Homo sapiens: one gene and its partner. The protein of the gene in region 2 purifies or fractionates together with the protein of the main gene of each other region. This does not show direct contact. Each region holds a gene or a part of one and is shown on either strand. Other genes may lie near its edges.

Region 1 (3,457 bases), on a different chromosome or scaffold from region 2:
GAGGAGAATCAGGAAACGGAGGATCTGGACCCAGGAGCCGAATTCCAGCAGGGGCGGGCTGGGGGCCGAGGGGCAAGCACAAGACTCTCCCCGGGGGATGTGTGAGGTGACGGGAGGGCCGAGGGCATCTGACGGCAGTTAGAGGCTGCGGGGATAGAGATGGGAGTCGCTGGGGGGAAACCCAGACCCAAAGCCCATTGCCAGGACCCCGACGTGGAAACATCGTGGGTGTGTGGTCCGGCGGGGGATGGGGGGGTCCCCTTGGCCGGGCTGAGGAGTGGAAGCCCCGGTGCGCCTGGGGCTGCCCCAGGGCCTGGAGGAAACAGGTCAGCACCTGGAGGGCGGGGCAGCCACCAGGGTCCCCAGGGTCATCACCAGGGAGGGCTGGGCCGGGGCCAGACACCTGGGGGCCCTAAGCAGGGCAGAGAAGCGCTGGTATAAGGGTTCCTTCAGGGCCAGAGAGGAAACTGAGGCAGGCTTGGCCCACATGAACCAGGCAGCACAGGTGGGAGTCCGGGGGCTTTTGCTGAGGATGAGGGGCGGTGCGGGCCTCAGGAGGGTCCCAGCCAAGGCCAGGGCTTATGAAACCAGACAGTGTCCCCCAGAGACCACAAAGCACCATATAGCAAAAGTCCAGAACTTTATTAATTCTCCCTGGTCCCGCCCCCGCCCCATGGGATGCTTGCAAGGTCACCAGGCCTCAGGTCCAGGGGGTCCGAAGCGCCGCAGGAGCTGCTCCTGGTCTTCCAGGTCCTTCCGCACCTTCTTGCGCATGTAGAAGATGGGGCAGTCCCGGCTGCGGGTGGGGGCAGGGGCAGGGTCAGGACCAGCCAAGGCCCAGTGCCCAGCCTGGGAGAGGGGTGGGGGCTGTTCCCAGGACTTTGGTCCCCGCCTGCTGCCCAGCCCACCCGCCCCCTCCCGCAGCGGGCTGTTTGCTCAGCAGGCACGGGGGGGGTGGGGGGGGGGAGCCGATAACAGCGGGTGCCTGGCGAGGTGCAGGGCCATGGCTGGCCGTATATCACCTGTCACCTGGCGTGGGAACCCACCCCGCCTACCCGTTCCCTGGGGAAAGCCCGGCCCCGCCCTGGGGAGGGGGCCAGGCTGGCTGGGTGTGTCGGGAGGACAGCCGTTTCCCGGGCAACACTGGGTGCCGGGCGCTGCCTCCCTAAGCACCCACCCCCTCTGGGGGGCTGGGATGGGCCCATTTTTCAGACAAGGACACTGAGGCTCAGGACAGCTCACAGCTGGAAGGGGATGGGCGGGGAGGATGCTCAGGAGAGGCCTTGGAGTCAGAGGTTGGGTCCACAACCCACAGGCCTGGGAGCTGGGAAGGGGCGGGGCAGCCCAGGGTCGGGACATGGCACACACCTGGTGCAGATGACGTCCTCGTGCAGGCTGCCCTGGCAGCGCTGGCACTGCGTCCAGAGGCGCGAGAAGCGCTCCTCCAGGGCATTCAGATGGGATACCTGGGGACGGCAGCGGCTGAGCAGGGCGCCCCCGCCTCCCCACCTGGCCCCTCCTCACCTCCCGGCCCTCTCACCTCCTTCTGATACAGCTCAGACTCCCGGGGCTGGCAGAACTCACACACGGCTCCTGTGGGGAGGCGGGTCAGCCCAAGTGCTGGGGCCCAGCCAGGAACTGGGCCACCCCATCCCTGCCCACTGCCAATCCCAGCTTCTGAAAGTCCCCAGAGGCTGGAGAACAACGGAGCAAGTGTGCTGGGAAAACTCCCCTGGGGAACTCCCGGGGTGGGGGCCGAGGACCCTCTGTGGGGGGTGGAGACAGGGGCCACCCACCCAGGGGCCCTGGGCCCACTGGGTGGCAGTGCCAGCCGATGGGGTGGGTGTCTAGGATCTGGGGTGACGGCAGAGCAGGTTGAGGGCCAGTGGGGGCCCAGTGGCCAGGGCCGCTCACCCTGGTGGCTGAGCACTGTGCGGCAGCCAATGCAGCAGTTGCGGCGTTTGGCGAAGGCCAGGAGGCCGCCCACCTTGCCCGTGAGCACCGTCTTGCAGCGCGTGTGGTCCCCCCCTGCAGGAGAGGAGGCAGGTGGTGGGCCGGTGATCTCCTCTGCCCCCCCAGGGTGCCCCCAGTCCCCTGGTGCCCCCGTACGCAGTAGCACAGCCTCGGCACGGCCCTCGCCCAGGATGGGCTCGAAGATGCGCAGGAGGGGCTTGGCCAGCTGCTGCTCCAGGTAGTACTGCGTGTCAATGGGCAGGCTGTGCTCCAGCACGAACAGCGGGTCCTGCGGCCACATGGCAGTCACACCCGGGCAGCCAGGGAAAGGGCACCGGGGTGGACACGGGGTGGTCATGGGGCCTGGGGCTTAGGGCCTAGGCCTGCCTGCGGGCTGTGACATGGGGGGGGCCTGGGTCTGGGATGGGGTCGGAGGTCACGGAGTCTCTGGGCCACAGAGTCTGTAGGGCTCTCAGGTCACCACGGAAGGGTCAGAGTTCACAAGGGGAAGCAAGGATGAGGAAGGGGTCAGGAGGTCAGAGGTCATGGGGCTAAGATGTGGGTCACTGGGGGTGGGGGTAGAGCTGGAGGATTATGAATCCAAGGGAACCCCCGGCTGGGGAGCTGTATGCACAGGGGAGGGACTGGGGCCCCTTCCATAGGGAAGCAAGGGAGGGGTCAGAATAGAGGGGGGACCTCCAGAGGGGGCCGAGGCCACACCCAGGCTGCCATGGGGGGCGGTTCTCAGGGCCCCACAGGGCACGGGAGGCCCCACCCTTCCCGCAGGCCCGCCCATCTCGGAAAGCAGAAGTGAGAGCGAGGGGGCTGGGCGGGAGCAGGCAGCCAGGTGGGCCTGACCTCCGACTTCATGTAGGCGGCCACACCCTTGGCGGCACTGATGATCACGTAGGGGACGCGGTCGCCCAGGCTGGGCGCACTCCCGGGGTCCCGCTTCCTCATCCTGCGTGGAGATGGGGTGGCGGGTGGGTGAGGGCAGGTGGGTGGCGGGGGTGGGGGCGAGGGTGTAGGAAGTGGGCCCAGCTGGCAGGAAGGAGGGGGTTATTTCTGGCCAGGCCACCCGCCCCGCGCAGGACCTCTCGGCCAGCTCCACGTGGGCCTGCTTGCCGGCATAGTCGGAGGCCGCGCGGGTCAGCTCCTTGGTGATGACCAGCTGGGAGATATCGATGCGGTTGCACAGCAGGTCCGAGATGACGTCCTGTGCGTGAGCCACCGCGCCCTCAGGGTCTCTGTAGGAGAGCGGGCCGCACAGCGTCACCAAAAGGCACTGAGGGCCAGGCTGGTGCCTCCACGGGTCTCAGGGCTGGAGACCAGGATGAGCTCTTAGGGCTGAGGCTCAGGGCAGAGAGGGGCCCTTCCTACCATAGGCTGCAGAGTGGCAGAGGCAGGGCCTGAACCCACAGCTGCCCAAGCCGACTCTTTCCACTGCTTCACCACCGAGGAAGAGCTGGGCCTGACACCTGTGTTCCCAGAGGAGGAGGGGCTG
Region 2 (7,406 bases):
AAACCTTAGGCTAATCCTGACCTTTTCTCCTCTGTCCCTAACCACCTTTGATTCCTTTTTGGGTGACTCTTTAAGATCTTTGGAATCCCAGTAAAGAACGGCTGTCTTGATTTAGCAGAGTGACAGCTGTGACCTCTCACCAAAGAGAAAATTCTCCCTCCTCTAGCCGAGACAGCACGGAAGGATCTAGGTGCAGAACTCATCGCAGAACCACAGCCCGAACTGGAAGCTCAGGACAGCTGAGAAAAGGAGAGTGAGGGAGCATTTGCCTTGAGACCAATGACATCCACCTAGCATTTGAGATGACTGTAGGCCACTTCTGCATGTTCACTCTGGTAGGAGATGAAGGGCAGCACTGTGGTCACATTAGCAATTACTAGAAAACCAAGGAGACCCAGGTAAAGCACTTCTTGGGTCCTCAACAAATATGTATATGCTGTTATTAATATGAATGTTGTTATTAGTACTAAAGGATGAGAAGAAAAACTGAAGACTGTTTAATGACTGTGACAAATCTGCACCTAAATGGAAAGGTGGTACTTTCTTTTCTAAAAGTTGTAGAGCACCCATTCTGTGGCTGCTTCTTTCAGAAATCCCCGCCTGCCTGCCTTTTGGAATCAGGCTCGCAAGTCACAGATGCCTAGGCTTGCAAATGACCAACGCCCATCTCACTGAGCAGCCTGGACCACCCAAACCTCTTGCCTGGCATTTGGTAGGTGGGATGAGCTCACCCACTCGTCTCCCTAAGGACCTTCTTGCTGTCTGGGGCCACCAACAGCTGATTATCCATTCTCATGATCTTATGTAAAGACTTCACAATTACTAAGAATGATACTGCTCAATCCCTTAAATGGGGTTAACAACTAAATCCATGGGGACAGACGTCAACAACTCGACCACCATCATCATAAGATGTTATTTGGGATAGATGTGGTTTATTCCTGGCCAAAGGGAAGGCATGAGTGCAAACAAGAAGGCACAAAAAGGGCAATTCATTCCAGGAACTGGAGTTAAAGGGGGTGTGCTTAAGTTGTGGGAGATAAAGCTAGAAAGAAAAATAGGAGAAAAATCATAAAAGCCTTGTGTGCAAACGAGTCTGAATCTCAAAGCTACAAGAACTCTTTACAGTTTGATCCCTGAATTCTCCCTTTCCCTTCCTGATGCTGGTTCTTCTCCCTTATTATGGATAAAAGCATCCTGTATTTAAGCACTTCTTAGCTTTCTCTGTTTTCTGGCTCACCTCCTCCATTTTTTTCTCAAGTGTTTTTCCAATGACATGCTTTCTAGACTCACAATATCCTAACTGCCCTCATCTGGAACGCTAACGCCTCACGAAGGGACACAGAACTGGACACCAAAATGCACGGATGTTTCTTCTCTAGAGTACAAGGCATTATGAGAAAAGTTACGGAAATACCGGATGAAAATGACTTGCAGATGAAAAAGTTTTTATGTTAGTTTTGTAAATACATGAGTATATTTAGTAAAATCAATATATTCTCAAGAATATAAGAATGTTAAATAAACTTATTCTTAAGAATAAATACCAGTCTGTTAAACCAACAACTAGTGGAAAAGGAAGGAAGCACAACAGAATTAATTTGATTTTTTTCAAAGCTGAATCCGTTATTATGTACAAACGGAATATACAAATGTTTCTTTACAATTTAAACATGCTGATTCCTTGCGAATTCGGTTACTAAATCAAAGTCTGGGGAGGGGGCGGGGAGACCGATGGAAGATAAAGGCAGATCAAATCTAAGAGTCCACATCTTGTAAAACTATGGATTCACAGACATCGTCCTTTTGCAAACCCGGCAAGCCTGCCTTACCAATCTGGGGGTGTGTGCCCTTTTCACACCCATCACAGACTCCACCTGTGGACCAGGCACTGCCCCAGCCCAGCCCAAGTCTGCACCCCCTTATCCAGGAGAGGCAGGCGGCTTCTTTCGAGGGCAGCACACCCGGCTCTCCGACCATCAGCTGCATCCACCGCCGAGATAACTACGGAAGCCCAACGGCCAAGGCCGCACTCACCTTGCCGCAGCCCGGCGGCCCCCACAGGATAAGCGAGGGGATTTCGTTGGTCTCCAGGAGCGAGCGCAGCAGGGTATCCTGGCCCACGGCCTTGCTCTGCCCGAAGTAATCCTGCAGCGTGTCAGGACGCATCGTGTCGGCCAGCGGCTTGCCCTGTAGCATCTGTCGGATCTCCTCGGCAGCCAGCGCCCGGGGGTGCGGGCGGCCCCCGCCACTGGCCCCGAAGGCGGTGGCGGCTTCGGCAGCGTCCGCGTCCCAGTGCCCCGGGTCGTCCTCGCCGTCCGCGTCCGCGTCCCCGTCGCCATCGCCGTCGCCCACGGCCTCCTCCTCCTCCTGCGCCTCCGCCTCGTCCCAGCTGCGCGGAGACGCGCTCCCCGCCGCGGCGGCGGCCGCCGGCCTCTTCCCCGACCCCTTCCTCCCGGGGCTGCTGGAGCGGGCCACCGGGAAGTCGGGGATAAGGCGGGCGCCGCTGGGTGTGGGCGGCGCGTCGTAGCTCTCGCGGCTCTCGGTCTCGCCGCCGTCGTCGCCCTCCTCACCCTCGCCCTCGCTGCTCTCGGCTGCCGTCGGGGTGGCTGGCTGCTTCAGCGCCGAGCTCTCCGACAGCCGCCGCCTCTTGGCGCCGGGCGGCGAGGGCCCCTTGGCCCGCTCCCCGGCGCGGTGCGACCCGGCCGCGGGCTCCGCGTGCCCCGCCGGGTGGAGCAGCAGACAGCGGTCCAGGTGCGAGTTGATGTGCGCGGCGGGCATCATCTGCTGGCACACGGGGCACTGCACCTGGTGCAGCTGCGAAAGGAAGGGGTCGTCTTCCGGCCCGCTCACCTCCATGGCGGCCGCCGCCCTCCCCGGCGCCCGGCGCGGCCGCAGCAACCCGTGCGCACGCGGAGGCCTTCGATGCCCTCCGCTAGGCCCCGCGCCGCGAGACCCTCGCTCGGGGAACCAGCAGGACGCTCGCGGGCCGGAGGAGGGCGCCGCTCATGCCTCACGTCCGCAGCTCCCGCGTCCGCCCGCCCTCGGCCGGCCGCTGGCAGCGCCTCACGCGGCGTGTCGGGAAGTGTAGTTCGTGGCCGTTTGCCCCGGCGGCGGAGGCGCCTCGCGCGGCATGTAAGTAAGTGTAGTCCGTGGCCGTTTGCCCCAATCACCGCCGAGAATACCTCGCGCGGCACTTCGGGAAGTGTAGTCCGCGGCCATTCGCCCCAGCTGCCGTGCGTCCATTTCCGACTCTGAGAACAGCCTTTGCGGGGGCGGGGGAGGGGCGGGGGGGGGGGTTGCGAGGCGAGCGTGGTGCGCGTGCGCGAGGTTGCGCGGTGGCGGACGCAGCCCTCCGCCCAGGCCTGCGAGTCGCGCGAGGGCAGGGAGGAGCCACGGACTGCGCGAGGTTGTTGGAGCGGCGAGCGCCGCTTTCCCGGCCTTCCGTGCTGGGCTGTTGAATGGGCCTGTGGGGACAAGCAGGAGGCGGCCGCAGCGGGTCGTTTGTAACGAAAGGGAAATGGGGGAAAAAACCCAAAAGCCTCCAATAGAAAACCAGTGTTCTATTGGACGTGAACAGCAGAAAAAATACAAACAAGTACGCGAGTGAAAGAAATGCTCACCTCAGTAGTGGTCAGGGAAATGAAAATAAAGCGTCCCTCGCCCCCTTTTAGATGTGTTGGCGTTTAAGTCAAGGGCGGTTCACCTACAGCGCGCTTCGAGCCAAGAGATGCTTCTCGCGGGCCGCTGTGTAATAGTGGCAAATCGGAAACACCAGCCTTCTGTCTCCTTAGCAACCAAATGATGGGAGGCGCCCGTGTGCAATTACGTCCTAGACGGATAGAAATGGAAAGAATATCAGATTAAAACAAGTGTGGTAGTCTGCATCTTTGAATGAATTACCATGTTATTTTTTGCTTTTGTCTAAGTCTCCCGTTTTAAAACATGTATCTCAAAACAGGCATTTTTGGTAACTAGAAGAGGTAAATGAATTGAGGGAGAATGAAGACTTTTCCGAAATTTGGCCAAAACTTGAATTTTTATTTCATCTGGGCAAGAGCACATTGAGGGTCTCACTCGTTCTGTCGCCCAGGCTGGAGTGCAGGGCCGCGACCAGAGCTCACAGCCTTGAACTCCTGGGCGCCCGGGACCCTTCCGCCTTAGCCTTTGGAGTCGTCCTGGGGTTACAGGCTGAGCCACCACGCCTGGCTGGCTGGTTAAGAGTTGTTTCTAACTAAAAAAGTTAGGCTCAAAAATAAGATTAATAGAAACGCTAGAGAAACAAGTTAAACTTTAATCATCATGTAACGTGAAACTACCAAAAGAGGATCGTGAGCTTTCATTATTTTTTTGAGACGCAGTTTCACTCTTGTCCAGGCTGGAGTGCAATGGCGCAATCTCAGCTCACGGCAACCTCCGCCTCCCGGGTTCCAGTGATTCTGCTGTCTCAGCCTCTCGAGTAGCTGGAATTACGGGCGTCCGCCACCACACCCAGGTAATTTTTTTGGATTTTTAGTACAGACGGGGTTTCTTCCTCGAACTCCCGACCTCAGGTGATCCGCCCACCTCGGTCTCCCAAAGTGCTGGGATTACAGGCATGAGCCACTGCGCCCGACCGTGAGCTTTTTTTTTTCATTTGTCCCTCAGCAGTGAGAGGTGACAGCATTCTGGCAGCCCTCTCAGTCCTCGCTCGCTCTCAGCGCCTCCTCTGCCTTGGCGTCCACTCCGGCCGTGGTTGCGAAACCCTTCAGCCTGCCGCTGTACTATGGGAGCTCTTTCCTGGGCGGGCCAAGGCCGGAGCTGGCTCCCTCAGCTTGTGGGGAAGTATGGTGGGAGAGGCGCGGGCGGGAACCGGGGCTGCGCGCGGTGCTTGCGGGCCAGCGCGAGTTCCGGGTGGGAGTAGGCTCAGATAAGCCTCGCGCTCGGAGCGGCCTGCACCACCGGCCCAGGACGGTGAGGAGCTTAGCACTTGGGACAGCACTTCTCGCCAGGCCGTAGTTGCCTCCACGCAGCGCAAGGCTCAGGCCTGCCATGCCTGAGCCTCCCCCCAACTGGGGACTCCTGCGCGGCCCAAGCCTCCCTGAGAAGCGCTGCTTACTGCCTCACGGCACCCAGGGCCGTTCACCACCCCAGAGCTGAGCAATGCAGGCTCATTACGTGGGACTAGCAAGCAACTCTATACTGCAGCCCCAGTTCAGAAATTAATGGGAGAAGCCAACTGGGTTTCTGAGTCTGGTGGGGACTTGGAGAACCTTTATGTCTAGCTAAGGGATTGTAAATACACCAATCGGCACTCTGTATCTAGCTCAAGGTTTGTAAACACACCAATCAGCACCCTGTCAAATCAGACCAATCAGCTCTCCGTAAAACAGACCAATGGGCTCTCTGTAAAATGGACCAATCAGCAGGTTGTGGGTGGGGCCAGATGAGAGAATAAAAGCAGGCTGCTAGAGCTGGCGATGGAGACCCGCTTGGCTTTCTTTTGCTTGTGTGGGTGTTTTGTTCTTTTATTTTTTGCATTAGCTGGTGTTTGGGTCTGAATTGTCTTAATGAGTGGTAATACTCACTGTGGAGACTTGTAGCTTTATTTCTGAAGGCAGTCAGACCACAAACCCACTGAACCCACTGGCAGGAACGGCTAACTTAAGAGATGCTGACCTAAGACCTCTAACGGTCTCCGGGAAGGTCTGCCAGTTGATTTCTGAGCCGGCGAGATCAGGAAGCTACCAGAAAGAAGAAACTCTGCACTGTGTTTAAGAACTGTTAACAGTTTCCGTGAGGGTCTATGCGTTTATTCATCAAGTTAATGAGAGTAAAAACTCATTGACTGCGAGCACATAAGGATTATTGCAGGAGCATCACAGAAGTGAATACTTGCAAAACAAGTTTTAGGGCTGATCTCAAAGCAAGGTTTTCAAGAAAAGTGTTACTAAATGTGGAAATACAGTACACTGATTTTAAACATTTATAGAGATAACGTGGCCACATGATCAATTAACCCATCCAAAAAATTTTAAAATGGAAACAAATTTCTTGAATCTCTTAATATAAGGCCTAAAATTTCTTTTTTCAGAAAATAATGCTGTGGAAAATCTACAAGTCTACTTGTAATCATTGTTAGTATTTTGGTACCTTAAGTCTCTTAGGACGTGTTTCAAGATTAGACAGTAGAGTTGCATATAGACCTAATTTTACGTCCAACTTTATTGTTAATAGGGTTTTCAAAAGTATTGTCATGGGAAACTTGTGTACTATGGGAGTAAAAATTAAGAGAGATAGAATTAATATAAACTCCGGTAATCCCAGCAGTTTGGGAGGCTGAGGCGGGCGAATCACAAAAGGACAGGAGTTGGGGACCATCGTGGCCAACATGGTGAAACCCTGTCTACTAAAAATACAAACATTAGCTGGGTGTGGCGGTGCGAGCCTGTAGTCCCAGCTACTTGCAAGGCTGAGGCAGGAGAATTACTTGAATCTAGGAGGTGGAGGTTGCAGTGAGCCGAAATCACAACACTGCATTCCAGCCTGGCGACAGAGCGAGAATCCGTCTCAAAAAATAAAAACAAAACCTAATGTATATAGTATAATGCCATTTCCTTTTTCTACTTGTGCTTTTCTATCCTATATTATGTAAATAATAAAAAGGAAAAATACAAAGCAAAGATTGTGTGTGTGTGTGCATGTCTCCCACAGCTACATACATGGATGAAGTTGAGCTATTTGGATGACCTATGAGGTGAAAATGACTCTAGACCTTGACTTCAAGAACCTGGGTTTTGAGCTGTCCATAGTGTGACCTTGGGCAAGCTACATAACTTCTCACACTCAGTTTCCAAATCTAAAGGAGGAATAAGAATGCCTACCTCACGGTCTGTCATGAGAATTAAGTGAACTTGTCAATGTGAAAGTATTTAGTAAAGTGCCTGGCACCCAGTAGGTCCTGTAGTAATATTTTTTCCTGAACCCTAGTCCCCTCTGTCTGAAGTTCAAGGTTTTCTCCACTAGGTGGTGATGGTAGAAAAATAAATGAAAAAAACGTACTTCAAAAATCACCCCTCCTCTTAGATTGCTTTGCCAATCAAATTTAAACTTTCTTTTCAGATCAGCATAAATACAAATAAATTTAAACTCGTATAGTATAAGGTCCCAGGAAATGAAATCAATGTAAAGCAGAAACCTAGGCTTCCATTTTCTCCTTTAATACCTCACTGTTTAATTGTCTGCAGCTGGCCTCGGTGGTTTACTTTTAAGTGTGTAACTATCTTCTCTGTCTTCCTTCCCCACAGTCAGAATGGGGAGGATAGATTCGGTGGTGACTCAAATAGACCTGTCAGTAACGACAAGTAGAGTCAGCCTGGCTGCAGTGCCTATGAGCAGGTATTTTATAAGCCATCTACTACTAGTGA

Evidence for each region.
Region 1: the proteins of WRNIP1 (region 2) and POLD1 purify together in Homo sapiens (affinity purification with western blotting; 2 studies listed by BioGRID and IntAct, with this or other methods). This does not show direct contact.

What each region holds. Positions count from the first base shown.
Region 1 is NC_000019.10:50,415,181-50,418,637, reverse strand, and holds the end of POLD1 (DNA polymerase delta catalytic subunit), read right to left. Parts: intron 3,201-3,457; coding exon 3,048-3,200; intron 2,915-3,047; coding exon 2,812-2,914; intron 2,243-2,811; coding exon 2,110-2,242; intron 2,029-2,109; coding exon 1,915-2,028; intron 1,594-1,914; coding exon 1,541-1,593; intron 1,467-1,540; coding exon 1,369-1,466; intron 797-1,368; coding exon 691-796; 3' UTR 624-690; downstream 1-623. UniProt on the Homo sapiens protein: As the catalytic component of the trimeric (Pol-delta3 complex) and tetrameric DNA polymerase delta complexes (Pol-delta4 complex), plays a crucial role in high fidelity genome replication, including in lagging strand synthesis, and repair.
Region 2 is NC_000006.12:2,761,076-2,768,481, reverse strand, and holds the start of WRNIP1 (ATPase WRNIP1), read right to left. Parts: upstream 3,009-7,406; 5' UTR 2,860-3,008; coding exon 2,038-2,859; intron 1-2,037. Other genes in the region: MYLK4 (myosin light chain kinase family member 4), read left to right, coding at 3,009-3,139. UniProt on the Homo sapiens protein: Functions as a modulator of initiation or reinitiation events during DNA polymerase delta-mediated DNA synthesis. In the presence of ATP, stimulation of DNA polymerase delta-mediated DNA synthesis is decreased.